Linked DNA regions of Homo sapiens: region 1 is linked to region 2. The links come from fine-mapping of genetic effects on gene expression. Tissue or cell type: thyroid. Region 2 holds a variant in brackets; the other region holds the start of a gene. All regions are shown on one strand. Distances are from middle to middle.

Region 1 (2,692 bases), 47 kb before region 2:
TGTGGTGGCGGGTGCCTGTAATCCCAGCTGCTTGGGAGGTTGAGGCAGGAGGATCGTTTGAACCCGGGAGGCAGAGGTTGTAGTGAACCAAGATCGTGCCACTGCACTCCAACCTGGGCGACAGAGCAAGACTCCATCTCAAAAAAATAAAAATAAAAATAAAATCTATTTAGAGATATTCTTTTACGATAAGAATATAGTCAAGTATTATCTGTGTAATTCAAAAATAACCTACATTGAAAAACCAACTACGTTAGCCCTTTATGAAAGAAAAAATGCTGTAGTGAAGTGGCATGACCTGGCTTTCTGAAATATGAGAAAACATGGTTTAAGCAAACCGCACATCATAGAGTTGCTCCTTTCAAAACAAGTCGGCCTGGCCCTGAAGCCCCAGCACTTTTACTGACCTCCTTCCTAATGCTGACTACAAACTCCTTTCCCCTCAGTCCTGTGTGGGAGGCTGCAGCCTACATTTTACATTTCTAAGGTCATCCCTTGTCCTTTGGAAGGACTCTCCCGAAGCTGAGCGAATAGCCAGGGCTCCCTCCTCCTGCTACTGGGATGCAGCCTCTTCCTTCCTCAGCCTGACCACAGCAATGGCCGACTGGCCCTGAAATGCTCTTGGCAAGAGCAGCAGCTCAGTAGCTCATGAATGCACTGGTTTTTATAGTATTTTCTGGTTTAAGGACGAGAGAACTTGTTTGAAAAAAAAAAAGTCTGTTATTAAGAAAATCCTAAAGGATCCCAGCTAGTTGCTTGATACGCCATCTCCTTTAATATAGTCTCATTAACTGGACCAACAGTATGCACAATGCTCTTGACTGGACATACTTAACTTTCCCAACATACATATCACACCTACGCAAAAGAAAAGCAGGCAAAGAGGATCGTAAGTGGAAGATGTCTTAAGAGAAGTGACTTAGGAGCCCCTGAGGTCTTGCTACAAAGGGAGACAGAATGACAGACCGCAGTAGGAGAAATGTCTGTTACCTGTCCAGCACTGTGGTCCCCCGGCTGGCTCCCGCTCTGATCAGATGCCTAAAAGCTTCCCAGTTTCCACTATGGGGCCATTTGTCCTGGGCCTCCTGGGCAGGGGCTCTCACGCCCAGTGGAGGGAGAACCAAGCAAGACTCATTTCGCGTTTTCAGGCAGGACTGGCAGCACCGCTCCCACGCTCAGCCTCCCCCAGCTATGATCCTCCCAGTCTCACAGAGTCATCCCTGAGAGCCGCGCTGCTGTTTTAAAAACAAAAAGTGATTTCCTGGTCCTCTTCCCCGGATGGCGTGTGCGATTTCCCTCACGCCCATGGGAAGTCCTTCAGATCCTTCTTATCTGGAAACCTCTCCACCAAGTGGACAGACTTGTTTGGCCAATGCCCCTAGTTCTCACTTTTCTTTCTCCAAAGAAAAAAATCAGAAAAGCAAAACCAGAGCAAACCAAACATAGGTTAGAGCTAATGAGAAGTACAGGATGTCTGGTTTCAACTTTTAAAAGATGACCACTAAATTAGATTGTAACTTCAGAGAGGAAGGAAAATTAAGACTATCGATGAATTCTTTGTCTTTAGCAGTGCCAAGAAAGCAGAGAAAAAAAGAATCCGCAGAAGAGAAGAGACCTAGAGAAGTTGCTTAGTCCTCCCCCGCGGGAGGGCTGTACCTCAAAAATGCCATATTGGAGGGACGTCCAGTTCTCCTAGGTTTCCAGGGAAACTCTGTGAGTATTTGTGTATCAAACTATAAATTTAGTGGTACTTAAAATACCGCTCAATAGCATGGATATTTAAAGATAAGGAGATATATGGTAAAGGCCTGGTTGGCAGGCTGCATCCAGGTTGCTGGGTTTAAAGATGAATTATAGTCAGCTCATTTTTGAACTGGAAGTGACCTCACTGATCCTCATTTTACAAAAGAGGAAACTGAGGCCCAAGGAGAACCCTTCCCAAGGTCAGAACACGGATGGGGAATGCTGTTTGACTCTCTACTCTGGAGCTCTGCCCACAGAAAGTTTGATGAATGAGGCCTGGCTTGGAATCGGCATTGGAAATAAGTGCTTCGGGTGAGTCCCATGCAGGTAGTCCCAAGAGTATCTTCAGGGAATTCCTCATAGTGTCAAAGAAAGGACTCTGGAGTCAGACTGTAGGAACTGATGCTTTAGTCCCACCAATTATATGTGGCCGGGTACACATTACTTGACCCTATTGAGATTCAGTGTTGTTTTGTTTTTAGACGGAGTCTCGCTCTGTCTCCCAGGCTAGAGTCCAGTGGCGCGATCTTGGCTCACTGCAACCTCTGCCTCCTGGGTTCAAGCGATTCTCCTGCCTCAGCTTTCCCAGTAGCTGGGACTGTAGGTGCCTACCAGCACATCTGGCTAATTTTTGTATTTTTAATAGAGACAGGGTCTCTCCATGTTGGCCAGGCTGGTCTCAAACTCCTGACCTCAGGTAATCCCCAGCCTCGGCCTCCCAAAGTGCTGGGATTACAGGCGTGAGCCACTGCTCCTGGCCCTGAGATTCAGTTTTATTGTGTGTGAAAGTGGGATAATAATAGTACTGAGTTTATAGACTCTGCTGAAACTGAAGAGGAAGAGTTTAGTAACTGTTTGTTGTTCTCTGGAGCCCTGGGCTCCAATGCCTCCAAGTTCATCCTCTCTCCCCTCCAGCTGCCTTCCCTTCTTGTCATGCTATCAGCCTGTA
Region 2 (2,692 bases):
CAAACCCTCAATTAGGTTTTGATTGAATAACTGTGGACTATAGACAAGCCAATTTCACTTATAAAACTGACCATTGTATTAATAAACTGTTAAAATATGTTACAACTACCTACCTTGACAAATATACCATCATGACAATATCAAAAGGTATGTGTTAAGCAGTGGTTAACTAAATGACTTATAAATTGGCAAAATATCAAAGATGGCTTACAGTGATTATTAATTGACCATTTCTGCTTGTTCTCTTAATGAACCAGGGAAGTTTGGATGATTAGTAAACTGAAGACAGACATAATTTATAAACTATACATTCATTTGTAAAATTTATTTTTCTTGCTTGAATTTTAACAAAATTACTAATAATGCTATTATAATCAAGATCTTGTTCTGTTGATAGAATGCCAATTTAAAAAGCCTTTCTTGTGTCATTACAGAATTATAATTATAATTATAGAATTATAATGACACAAGAAATTGTAACAATTATAGAATCGTCAGTAAATGCTCTAAAACAGTAAACTCAGAAATAGCCATAAATGTTACATATCTTGTGTACATATTATAATAGAATCACTTGTGATAAATTAGCATTATCATGAAAAATACCGTGATTTACAATATAATTGTTATCACATATCGTGATTTTAACTATCTCTTAAAGCAAAGTTTAGATGCATGGTAATATTTTTAAAATGTCTTTCAAGTTTTTTGAAGCTGGAATAGTATAAAGAAAACTGAAAATAGCACTATATTGCAGCATTTGTTCAAATTTCTCTTCAATAGACAGCATACGTTGATCTACAATGACCAGAAAACAATCCTTACCAAAATTTCTTTCAGGATTATTTGTGTGTGGATCTCCTTTTTATCCATGTACATATTTTTTTTTCTTGTTCTAATTAACTTATATTTTATTGGAATGTTATTTCATTGCACATATCACATGCACTTTCTTTTGATTTAGAAAAATGTTTTAAAAATTAAAAACATTTGTAACCTTTTTATAAGTAAAATGGCACAACTCAGATTTTTATTTTTGTAAGATTTTGTCAAAAAAAAATGCATTCCAAATAACAAAAAAACATGAGCCACTCATGTTCAAAATTAATTTGATTTTCTGTTGAAGATCATAATTTCCTGTTTATTTGAAGCTCCTCTATTGTTTTACTTAACTCTTCAATATATCTGATATCTTGCCTGAATTAAATCTAATTGCCTTAACAGCATTCAGTCAGCATTGCCATGATGTGTCAAAGGATGATTGGGTGGCCAAAATTGATATTAGTTTCTTTAGTTTTTCATCTTTAGGCAGATAAAGACAATATCATACATAAGGCTTGGAAGTGTTCCACAGAATACCGTAGTTATAAAGAAGTTAAGCATTTGTCTCCTGGTAACAAATTCAAACTAT[T/G]TTGAGTCATCTGGCTTGTTGGTTTTTTCTTCAACAACCACCTGAGCACAATTGTTAACAAACTTTCAAATCAATGCCTAAAATTGAAAGTTGTTTCTTCATCTTTTCATAAAAGTGAAAATTCTTACTTTTTACAACAGATGTAAAAACTAATGAAACATTTGGAATTTTTAACTTCCTTGTTTCTTCATCTTGTAGTTTTGAATACTTTGCATGATAAAAGTTGGTGTATAATGTGTCTTTTATCACTGGTAGAATCTAGTTGACCTTTACAATTTTTATGTATTAAATATTCTTATTTTATTACTCATTATTAACAATTTCTTTTAAAATTCTTCATTCTAGATAGTGATCATTTATTTCACTTTCTTTTGATCTCTCTTATGTGTTTGGCCATTTTAACATCAAATTTCAAAAGCATTTCTACTTAACCTAGAAATTTTCCATTGTTTTCTGTAAATATCGTTCTGCTATTGCCACAGAAAACATCATTATGCTTAGGTACATACTACACACAATAATATTCTTTTGAAAAAAATCTCACCTAATGCCCAATGTTCTATTTCAGTGTTTAAATACTATTGACTGTTTTTCATTTATTCAGCTTTTTTTCAGTTCTAATAAAAATCACTATTTGCTTTTTTTTTTTTTTAATGCATCTTGTATGCTCTTCTTATTGACAGTCTAAGAGTTTCCATTCACAGGTATCTTCATTGGCCAACACTGATCCTGAAAATAGATTTTAAAATATATACCAGTAGTAACAAAACATCTTGTCTTTCATTTAAAATATAAAAACCAATTTATTAGTTGAAGTTTTATTTGCTTTGTTAAAACATCCAGACTGGGCATGATGGCTCACACCTATAATCCCAGCATTTTGGGGGACTGAGGTGGGAGGATCACTTTAGGTCAGGAGTTCAAGACCAGCCTGGCCAACATTGTGAAACCTCGTCTCTACTAAAAATACAAAAATTAGCCAGGTGTGGTGGCGAGCACCTGTAATCCCAGCTACTTGGGAGAATGAGGCAGGAGAGTCCCTTGAATGCAAGAGGCAAGAGGTTACAGTGAGCCAAGATAGTGCCACTGCACTCCAGCTTGGGTGACAGAGCAAGACTCAATCTCCAAGGGGAAAAAAAAAAAAAACCAGAAAACTTCCGTGCAGAGATCCTGCAAATTAAAATTTTTTAATGGGCATCTTTAATTTGATGTCTTGAGATCGAGTCTGATATTTATATTTGTAAATAAATGTATTCAGAAGACAAAAGCAATTTTATCATA

What was found. PIP is the estimated chance that this variant, and not a neighbour inherited with it, causes the effect. A credible set is the group of variants that fine-mapping cannot tell apart.
Region 1: ADGRF5 starts here. The variant in region 2 is the best candidate, but not a certain one, in a credible set for the expression of ADGRF5 in thyroid (GTEx, PIP 0.54).

What each region holds. Positions count from the first base shown.
Region 1 is chr6:46,920,723-46,923,414 of GRCh38, forward strand. It overlaps ADGRF5 (adhesion G protein-coupled receptor F5), which reads right to left and starts at 1,216. Exons shown (of 21, transcript NM_001098518.2): 1 at 991-1,216. LOC105375080 (a long non-coding RNA gene) reads left to right here and starts at 1,357. Exons shown (of 3, transcript XR_001744147.2): 1 at 1,357-1,713.
Region 2 is chr6:46,968,021-46,970,712 of GRCh38, forward strand. No RefSeq gene overlaps it. Among named protein-coding and RNA genes, the nearest start is that of ADGRF5, 47 kb to the left of the region's middle. The variant T/G (reference allele first, on the strand shown) is at 1,412.